Linked DNA regions of Homo sapiens: region 1 is linked to region 2. The links come from fine-mapping of genetic effects on gene expression. Tissue or cell type: tibial artery. Region 2 holds a variant in brackets; the other region holds the start of a gene. All regions are shown on one strand. Distances are between the middles of the regions.

Region 1 (5,132 bases), 99 kb before region 2:
TTAAACATCACTGGTTTTCCAAAACTGGTTTTCTTTTTTTTTTTTTTTAACCCTGTTGCTCGGGCTGGAGGGCAAGTGGTGCCATCTCCACTCACTGCAGCCTCGACCTCCCAGGCTCCACTGATCTTCCCACCTCAGCCTCCTGAGTAGCTGGGACTACAGGTGTGCACCGTCACGACTTGCTAATTTTTGTATTTTTTTGTAGAGACGGGGTTTTGCTGTGTTGCTCAGGCTGGTCACTCGATCTGCCCACCTGGGCCTCGCAGAGTGCTGGGGTTACAGGTATGAGCCACCACGCCCAGCCCACTGGTTTCCTTTACACCCGTTTTGTTCCCCAGCAGTCCTTATGAGGGCACCTGAAATAAGGAACCTCCTCCCCGACTTGAGAGCAGCAAAGCCTTCAGAGGGAACTAAGTTATTAAAACCCACCCCACACAAAATGCTTCTAAACGCCTTGGCTGACTTAATCCTTGCAGTGTGCTGAGGTTAAGTATGATTATCCATCTCCTGTGAACAGGAAGACTGAGGCTCAGAGCTTAAGTGATTTGCCCACGGTTCACTGCAGGGGATAAAACTCGGCTGTCCCTGGCAGGTCCCAAAGTCACGGCCTTCAGGCTCCCACACCATGCTGCCTCCCTCACCGGGGCTCCACACTCTCAGCCTGGAAAACACGAATTTTAAGAAAACCATGACTTACGAAAAGCAGCCAATCCCAGCATTGGAACCAACAGGGCATAATTCCACCTGCTTCCATCACCACCATCCGCCCTGGAATTAGGCCGGATATTCCAATTTGGGGGATCATTTAGGTTATTCATGGAGATATACCTTGAAGTAAAGAATAAAAACGTTAACTACTTTTATTCAAGAAATTTTTCTTCAGTTTTAACTATGTGCTTGCTGCACAGCACTGAGGCCCTACGGGATTCAAAGAAGAAAAAAACTAGACCAGAGCCGGGCATGGTGGCGGGCACCTGTAGTCCCAGCTACTCGGGAGGCTGAGGCAGGAGAATCGCTTGAACCTGGGAGGTGGAGGTTGCAGTGAGTCGAGGTCGCGCCACTGCACTCCAGCCTGGTGACAGAACGAGACTCCGTCCCCCCCAAAAAAAAAGAAAAAGAAAAAGGAAAAAAAAAACAAGAACTTAAGATGAAAGCGACTCACAATCTGGTTGGGGAAAGTGGAGAAAACAGACATGTCTTAAGCATCTGAAGTGCAGGTAGAATCAGGTAAGTTCTCTGGTACAAATATGTTTAAATGTATGGCTGCTGCGATGGTTAATTTTGTTTGTCAACTTGACGGCATCATGAGGTGCTCAGATACATGGTTAAGCATTATTTCTGGGCGTGTCTGTAAGGGTGTTTTTGGATGAGATTAGCAATTGAACCTTTAAACCAATTCCTCACGTCTCCCTTCTATTTGTTGTGTCTCTGGAGAACCCTCATACAGTTGTATCAAAGATACAGAATCAACTCGATAAAAGTGGGCTCACACCGGACACTTTCATATGAGCTAGGGTTTGAAGAGTGAGCAGCATTTTGACAGGCAGAGAAAGAAGGAAAGGGTCTTCTGATCAGAAGGAAGACTGTGAGGAAGGCAGGGAGGGGTGATGTGGGGAAGGTGCAAACAGTGCTAGAAGCTTCTGAGGCCTCCTCGTGGTGGTGATGAATGCAGAGATTACAGAGTTCTCTGCTTCGGGCTCAGCATGCACCCTCCATAGCTAGGCTGGGGGCTAACGTTAGTAAGAATTTACTGATTTACTGAGTACCTACACGAAGTTTCACATTTTCACAAAGTAGAGTCACTTTAAGTTTGTTTACATGTGACCTCCACAAACACACACAATTACAAAATAGTTTAGTTAATCAAGGGATGTATAATAAACAAGAGGTCGGAGGCCCCGGGCCGCTCCCGCCCACCTCCGCGGACGAGCGCCCCCCTCCGACCCCATTCCCTGCGGTCTGGGCGTTCAGGCCCTTCGGTCTGGGCGATCCCGGAGAACCACCCACGGGGCTTTAAAAATGTTGGTGCCCACCACCTCCCCGGAACAGGGCCCGCTCTACCTCGGTCGGGGAGCGCGGGACCTCAGCGTTCCCTTAACGCCACCGTCCGCGGGTCCGCTTTGCGCAGGCGCGGCGCCCCCACTCAGTACCCGCTCCGGGCGTGGCATGGTGCGCAGGCGCGATGTCCCCCACTGCAGCCCCGCTCGACTCCGGCGTGGTGCGCAGGCGCGGTATCCCCCCTCCCCCGCCAGCTCGACCCCGGTGTGGTGCGCAGGCGCAGTCTGCGCAGGGACTGGCGGGACTGCGCGGCGGCAACAGCAGACATGTCGGGGGTCCGGGGCCTGTCGCGGCTGCTGAGCGCTCGGCGCCTGGCGCTGGCCAAGGCGGTGAGTCCGTGCCGCGGACCGGGGCGGGGCAGGCGGGGGCCGAGGCGGCGGTAGGAGCGGGACGGTCCCCAGCGGGTCCGAGCGGAGCGGGCGCCGGGTCCCTGCGCCCTCTGTCCCGGGATCGGGAAGGGGCTGAGAGAGCCCTGGGCCGGTGCGAGGGGAAGCCGCGGGGCGGACTCGGGGACCCGGGGAGCTCGGTCCTTAGTAGATAGTCCGCGTCCGGGTGAAGGTCACAACCCCGCGGGCTTGCTGGGCGTCCCCTCCGCCGCCTTGGTCCGGGCCTGGGGTCCTGGGACCCCGCGGGCTGAGGTAGCCCCTCGCCTCAGTGCCTGGCAGGTGGACTCGGGGAGGAGTCGTGTCTGCCCAAGGTCACCCGGGCGGATAGCGGCCGGTGGCCGCCCTGGCTGGGCTGGGCCTCTGCCGCCCTCTGTGCGGGTTGTCCTGAGGAGCAGCCCGCAGCCCGTGGGTGGGGCCGGCGGGGCGGGTGAGACCGCCCGGGTGGGTGCGAGGAGTGGCCGGGCTCGGCCCGGTGGGCGTCCGGTGGGAAGCGTGGCGCGCCCGAGCTTAGGCTTGCAGTTCGCCTTTCCAGAAAGCGCAAATCTGTCCATGTCCACTTCGAGACCTTGTAAGTTAAGGGCTTCTACTTTGGGTCGTGTTTGGTGGTCCTTATGCCACCAAAAATGTGCCAGTGTTTAAAAGCAGCTGTGCCAGTTTTTAAAACTCAGGCGGAGAGCTCAGCGCACTGACCGGGCGAGGACGCCGGGACCTGTGCTTGCCTGTGCGCTGAGTGCCTCTAGGGCCGGGCTCGGCTTAGTCCAGGATGGTGGTCAGGGTTATACTTCCCTGAGCCCTTGCTCTCTGAGTGTCTGAATGTGCCCTCTACGATTGCATCTTAAGAATCGGCCTTCTAGGGTTTTATTTAATCAAGCTAAATTGGATAGGTTTAGTTGTTTGGTTCTTTTAAATGAACTTACCCACCCACCTCCTTAATTACAAAGTAATTTTAAATTGCAGAATAAAAATCTCAATAGGAACCAAGGCATTCAGCAATATTGATTTGAATTATGCCTGTAATTGTGCAATTTTCTCCTTTTTGAAATACTTATTAAAAATCTCGTTGAGTTAAATGTGAGGATTAGTCATACAGCCATCCTGCCAACATCAGAAAGCGTGTAAACCGTTCTAGTGTGTTGCTGTGGTTGGTACTGACTGAGCAGAGACCCCTGCCGCATCTTGGGCTTTTAAGAGCTGCTAGGAGGGCGTCCACAAGCAGGAAGGAAAGCCCATGGTCAGTGGGGCTTTTTAGGGGAAATGGTAGCTTGTGATTGGAGAAAAGCTAGAGCTAGTGCCTTTGTCCTCAACCCAGATGGTGCCCGGTGTTCCTTCTGCAGACTAAGACCCTGCCAGCGGCGGAGGCACCTCAGACGGGATGGCAAGATAGCAAAATTGAACCAAAATTTAGTCTTGGGTTTTGTAAAAGTCTTTTTATCTTGATGAAGTTAGCTTTTCCTACAGAAATTCTGCCTGCAAGCAGCATATTTATCGGCATTTCAGATAGGCTTTTTTTCCTGAAGAATTGGAGTTTACGAAGGAACAGCATAATCAAAAAATTAGCAGAAAAAAGAAAGAAATTCGTGATAGCCAACTGAGAAATGTGTTTGGAAAATAGATGCTGAGGATAATTTCAGTAAAGTCCAGAGAGAATTTTTTAACCTCATTTTGGCCAGTTCTGTGGTGTTTTGATCATTCTGTATTTACAACTGCTTTCAAGTGACGAACTTATCAGACTTATTTTGCTTTTGGTTTCTTTTTATGGCCCAGTGCACTGACACAGCTTGCAAACTGTTCGAAAGCAGTTTAATCAGAGGAAAAAGAAAACCAAGAAACTTCAATAGTTACTGGTTAACTGCTTACTTCAGGTGAAGTTTTTCAAATCCCTTAACATGAACATCCAATATATTGTTCTAGGACAAATTGATTTCTTTTCTTTGAATGGATTGTTCTGAATATGTTTAATGGTGTTCTAGAAATACATTATTTAGGCCATTATAGTAGTAAACCTTTGCTTTGCTTCTTGGGATAATTGTAACAACAATGGCATTCCATTCTGCATTCCTCATGATGTTTTTCCTGATTTATTTGAAAAATTGTGACTTGTTTTTTGATATGAAACCTGGATATTAATATTAGTTGGGAGTCTCAGAGATTTTTCCCAAGGGTCTTTAGATAGGGGGGCAAGTCCAGGATCCAGAGCCAGGCCGGCCGACTTGAATCCTCTCTGAGCTCCGTCTTTCCGTGGGGTTAGTGAGGATTCTGTGGGTAATGTTTGAAACCTTTGGTGATGCTCTTGAGAACCAGGGCTCACAGCCTATGCACAGTAACCATGTGTGAACTGAATTTTTTTTTTTTTTTGAGACAGAGTCTCACTCTGTCACCCAGGCTGGAGTGCAGTGGCGCAATCTCGGCTCACTGCAAGCTCTGCCTCCCGAGTTCACGCCATTCTCCTGCCTCAGCCTCCTGAGTAGCTGGGACTACAGGCACCTGCCATCATGCCCGGCTAATTTTTTTGTGTTTTTAGTAGAGACGGGGTTTCACCATGTTAGCCAGAATGGTCTCCATCTCCTGACCTCGTGATCCGCCCGCCTCGGTCTCCCAAAGGGCTGGGATTACAGGTGTGAGCCACCACGCCCGGCCGAACTGTATTTTAAGTATCCCTGTTTTTAAAATAATAAACACTAAAATTCT
Region 2 (5,263 bases):
CGCTGCCCGGTCCGCCTCCCTGCCTCACTGTGCAGCGCCGGCCCTCCTGGGTTGACACTCCCGAGGCCCAGCCTCATTCTCCAGACGCTTCCCTTCCACAGTGATGCGTCTGGTTTTGGGGCTGCAGCCTCTGGTCTCAGAAAGCCTGCTCCTTCCACCCAGTTGTGCACGACTTTTCTCTGTTCGTTTTGGTCTCTTGGGATCTGTTCAAACCTCTGCTCGGTGTGTTGAGGGGTGAGGGGCAGGGAGCATGGTTTCCTGGAAAAAGCCCCCAGTCTCTTAAGCTGGGCAGGTGTGCTGTGGGGGGTGGGGACTGGGGCTGCTTCTGTGCTCCAGATGAGACCTCCCCCACTGCCCAACTGCACTTGGCCTGGGGCCCTCTGGATACGAATCCCTCTGGAGCAGGCACTCCAGGCTCCCTGGGGATGGGAGGGGGAGGGATGTGGGCTTGGGGGTCTGGCTGCTCCCTCATGACCTCAGTCATGGGGATCCCAGGGCAGTCTCTGAGGATCCCCAGCAATCCACGCCGGGTGCCTCCCTAGACCTTGACACCCCCATGACTCTGCAGCAGATGACCCCAAGTTCTACTCCATGAGGTCAACTTCCTTGTCCAGGCCGCAAGCTCCCAATTCCATGAGGCCTTCCTCACCCAGGCCTCCACGGCCAGGCGCCCAGCGACTTCTCCCTCGCCTCATGGGCACCTGGACTCAGTGTCCAGTAGCTGCACCCACCCCACCCTGGGAGCTGCCCTCACTCCTCCTTCAGCCTTAGGCCTGTGAGGTCTCTGTGCTTGGGGTGAGGGCAGCTGCTGCGGCCACCCTGCAGCCCTCCCAGCCACGTCTCCAGGCCCTTGCCCGTGCTGTCCCCTGTGCAGTGGGCAACCCCCACCCCACACCTGCAGCTTCTCTGGCCTCTGGATTCCTACCTGGGTCAGGGAAGCCTGCTACTCTGGAGGAGCTGTCAGCCCTGGTGAGACACCTGCCCCCAGCACATGTCTCCATGGATGATACGGGCCAACAGTTGATACCAAGGCCGATGTGCTCATCCTGTGGATCAGCTGCCGGGGAAGGAATGTTGTGTGTGGCGGTTAGCTCCATACTCCTAGAAAGCAGGCGAAGGCCAGGTGAGACGGAGACTTTCATAGAGAAAAGGTCAGATTGTGGATGATTTTCCTTCCTTCCTTTTCACAGCAATGAGAGGTTCCTCTGATGGAGATAAAGTGTGTTTCTCAGGTCTCTGGTATGCTCAGGTGTGGCAGGTTCACAGGTGTGAGGTACACTCAGGTGTGTGGTGCAGGTACCCTCAGGTACTCTGCACGTGGCTGCCATGGGGGCTCCTGTTTGCAGGCAGCTCGGGGAGGCTGCCTTGGAGAGGGGCCTCCATGAAGACTCACAAGAACAAAAGCCGCTGAAAATTCCAGAGCAGAAGTTCTTCAGCAGAGGGTGAGGAGGGCGGTGGGGCCGCTGCACCACACGCTTGGAGGACCAGCAGGGGTAGAGCGCTGGACAAACGCATGTCAGGCCGGCCTGCTGGCAAAGGAACCCCTGGATGCAGAGAGCCTGTTGGGCTGGTGGGCTGTGGCTGTTGGGAGGGACATTTCCCCGGGGAGCTCCCAGCCATCAGAAGTCAAGGGAGGGAGGCGGTGAGGAGCCTCTCGAAGCAGAAGGTGTGGAGGGGGGACTCCCCTGCTCTCCTGGCCGGAGTCACTGATACAAAACTGGGGGTCCCTGGAGGGCAGTGAGCTCACGAGTTGTGGTGGATTCCTTGTGGAGGGGGTGCCAACCCGCAGGGAAGCAGGGCTGCCGTGCCCCCTGCCCAGCCACACTGCCAGCACAGACCCCATCCTCAGGCGCCTGCAGGGAGGCCACCCACGCCTTCCTGGGTGAGGGAAGCCCCTGAGCTAAACCTCACTGCACTCTGAGGCCCCAAGGGCCAGGCAGCTGCACACAGCCTGGGCCACGTGGGGGCAGTGCGGCTGCACCACGGAGCTCTCGGGAGCTGCTGACTGACCGGGAGGACCTGCCCGACACAGCCATGGGATTTATAGCCGCAGAGAGAAGACTACAGAGAGACGGGCCTTCGCCCTTTCAGCTCTCCCTTGTCAGGCAGGCTGTGCCCTGTGACCCTTCAGAGCCTGGGTTTGGGGGTGGAGGGGGTGGACAGCTGACCA[G/T]GTGCCTGGCGCAGGCCCAGTGTGGTGAGGCTGGGTCGCGGAGGCCAGGCCAGGCCAGCGGCCACGACCACCCACCAGGGACCCTCAGCGTCACGACCCCGGTCCCAAGACCCAAGACAGCAGGACATGGGGGCACAGCCATCTCTGGGGGCCTCTCCTTCCCCCCGCTCTGGGTCCTCAGTCATCAGTGCAGACATGGAGGTGCAGGTGCACGCCGTACACCCTCACCTGGGGCCCCTGGCCCATGCCTCCCCACCCTCCCTACCCTGATCTCCCCCCACAACCCTACACCTCCCCGGACAACCCTGCACCTCCCCCAACAGCCACCCTGCACCTCCCCGCCACAACCCTGCACCTCCCCCAACAACCCTTCAACTCCCCTCTCACCTTGCACCTGCCCCTCACCCTGCACCTCCCCCCATCCTGTACCTCCCCCCTTCACCCTCCACCTACTCCCAACCCTGCATCTCCCCCCAACCCTGCACCTCCCCACATCCTTCACCTCCCTCCTCACCTGGCACCTCCCCCCATCCTTTCCCTCCCCCAATCCTTCACCTCCCCCCTCCCTTCATCTCCCCCCTCACCCTCCACCTCCCCCCCGCACCCTGCACCTCCCACCCTTACCCTGCACCTCTCCCCATCTTTTACCTCCCTCCCACCCTGCATCTCCCCCCAACCCTGCACCTCCCCCCATCCTTTATTTCCCCCCACCCTGCATCTCCCCCCAACCCTGCACCTCCCCCCATCCTTTACCTCCCCCCACCCTGCATCTCCCCCCAACCCTGCACCTCCCCCAATCCTTCACCTCCCCCCTCACCCTCCACCTCCCCCCCTCACCCTGCGGCAAGCAGAGAGCTGACTCCAGCACAGTGAACTTGGAATGATGGAATGCACCCTGGAAGCAGCTCTGACGGGCGCCACCGTGACTGTGCCCAGCAGGGAGCTCCCTTGTGGTTTTTAACAAAAGACAAAATTCCCCAGGTCCTTCTCTGTGCTACAGGAGAAACTGGTGTGGGAGAGGGAACCCAGGCGTGACCAGGGAGAAACTGGTGTGGGAGAGAGAGGGAACCCAGGCGTGACCAGGGCTGCCCAAGCGGCTCCCTGTGAGGCATCAACGCTGGAGACACAGCAGTCATGGGGAACCCGGGGAACCCGGGAAACCCAGCCGCCATCAGAGAGCCAGAGAGCCGCAGGCGCCTGTGCGGGGTCCTGGCCTGGCCCGAGGGGTCAGCACACCCCTGTCTGCCTCTGAGGTCAGGGCCCTGGGGGCTCCTGACCTGGCCTGCCTGTGGGAGGCAAAGGTGTGGCCAGGAGAGGACAGGAGGGGGCAGTCACAGTCACCACTCCTGGAGGCCCATGAAGAGCAGCTTTGCCCCCACACTTCTGTGAAGCCAACTTGGGCCTGTTTGGGAGGGGCCTGGCGCTGCAGCCGGCCGTGGGCACCTGCCATGTGGCGGTCCACTGGAGGCCAAGTCCAGCTCATATGGCTCTGGGGACCCACCGCACCAGACTCCAGTGTGGGGGTACCCGGAGCTGGGGGTGGGTCCTCGGAGGCTTCCAGTCCTGCCCCAGCTGCCATCCCTGCCAGGTGTTAGCGCCTCTGGTTCAGAGTCCCGAGAGGACCAGTGGCCCAGGAGAAAGGGGTGTGTCTCCAGCTGCTGGGAGTGTGGGTGGGAGCCAGAGGGTTCAATGACACTGGGGACAGCAAGTCCGGACTGGAGGGAGGAGACCTCCTGAACAGGGTCCCCAGCACAGAGGCAGAAAGGAGACTCTGTGACTGGGGGTGTCAGCTGCATCTGGACCTTCGTGGTGGGGAGGGAGGCACGCCCAATAGCCCGTCTGAACGGGAGGTGGCTCAGGGATCCCCCATTGTGCTGGTGGGGTGCCCAGAGACTCCAGGACTCCACGTGGGGCTCTGCCTGCTAAACCCTGAGACTTTAGGGGCAGTGGCTCCCACGGCAGGGTCATCCTTTTTCTGCACAGTCCCACTGGCTGCCCCAGGTCCTGCAGAGACCTGAGACTTTGGGGACAAGCACAGGGGACAGGTGGGCGTGGATGGCCTGTGCCGGTCAAGGGCAGTGGGAAGGAAGGAGGAGCAGTTTCCTTCTGTACCCAGGAAATAGAGTAACAAAGTGTCTCATTCCAGTTGGTTCTGGTGGGACAGGGTAGGTGGAAGGGAACCCGTGCTTGCCCTGAGACATGGGGGTGCTGTCTTCCCATGCAGGGGGACTGCGGCTCACCACCATCACATTCTACCCACAGGTTCTTATTTTAACAGATCACAAAGGTACTATGTGCTTCTTGCAAAAATTTACAGGAATTGTAGACTTTTCAAAAAGTAAAAAGAAATTAAAGTTCACCTGTTACCTCAGAGTTATCCAGCTACACATTTTCTGTGCATAATTCACTTTACAAAAATTGGATCAAGATAAAACTAATGATTTTTAAAAATACAGCAATATAGTTGCACATTGTTCCATATCAAAAAATAAATGTGTGCACCCAGGGCTCCTGGCTGTCTCAGTGGCATAGTGGCTCATGCCTGTAATCCCAACACTTTGGCAAGCCGAGGTGGGTGGATCACCTGAGGTCAGGAGTTCGAGACCAGCCTGGCCAAGATGGCAAAACCACTATCTACTTAAAAAAAAAAAAAAATTAGCCAGGTGTGGTGGCGCGCGACTGTAATCCCAGCTACTTGGGAGGCTGAGGCACGAGAATCGCTTGAGCCCTGGAGGCAGAGGCTGCAGTGAACTGAGATCGCACCACTGCTCTCAGGCCTGGGTGACAAAGCAAGACTCTGTCCCAAAAAAGCCCATTTACTCAGCTCACATTTTTGAGCCTCTGCTATTCGACAGGAACCAGAGGTGAGCAGAGCCGACTTGGTGACCCCTGGGGACAGAGCGGCAGAACTCAGCAATTCTGGGCTGCCCTGCAGGAGCTACACCCGGGGAGGGGCGGTGGCCACTTGGGGGCAGGGTGGGCTTCTCAGCTGCGCCCACCCCACCTTGGGAGCTGTGTCTGGAAAAGAGACTTTTCCTGAGCCGACAGCAGACAGCGAGTGCAAAGGCCCCAAGGCCCGCACGCCTTATTCAG

Alleles and levels. Positions count from the first base shown, and alleles are read on the strand shown. Sizes are in standard deviations (SD) of each study's normalised expression.
As copies of T replace G in region 2, the expression in tibial artery of the gene that starts at base 2,122 in region 1 goes up (moderate effect, 0.52 SD a copy in GTEx).

What was found. PIP is the estimated chance that this variant, and not a neighbour inherited with it, causes the effect.
Region 1: CCDC127 starts here. The variant in region 2 is fine-mapped to the expression of CCDC127 in tibial artery (GTEx, PIP above 0.99). The same link has a PIP of 0.9 or more in lung, pancreas, spleen, thyroid and transverse colon.

What each region holds. Positions count from the first base shown.
Region 1 is chr5:216,032-221,163 of GRCh38, forward strand. It overlaps CCDC127 (coiled-coil domain containing 127), which reads right to left and starts at 2,122. Exons shown (of 3, transcript NM_145265.3): 1 at 2,062-2,122; 2 at 698-828. The coding sequence starts at 818. It overlaps SDHA (succinate dehydrogenase complex flavoprotein subunit A), which reads left to right and starts at 2,289. Exons shown (of 15, transcript NM_004168.4): 1 at 2,289-2,387. The coding sequence starts at 2,325. RefSeq lists silencers at 2,100-2,429, 2,660-2,899 and an enhancer at 2,299-3,107.
Region 2 is chr5:315,343-320,605 of GRCh38, forward strand. All of the region lies in intron 3 of PDCD6-AHRR (PDCD6-AHRR readthrough (NMD candidate)), which reads left to right. Among named protein-coding and RNA genes, the nearest start is that of AHRR, 3.7 kb to the right of the region's middle. RefSeq lists an enhancer at 3,175-3,474. The variant G/T (reference allele first, on the strand shown) is at 2,171.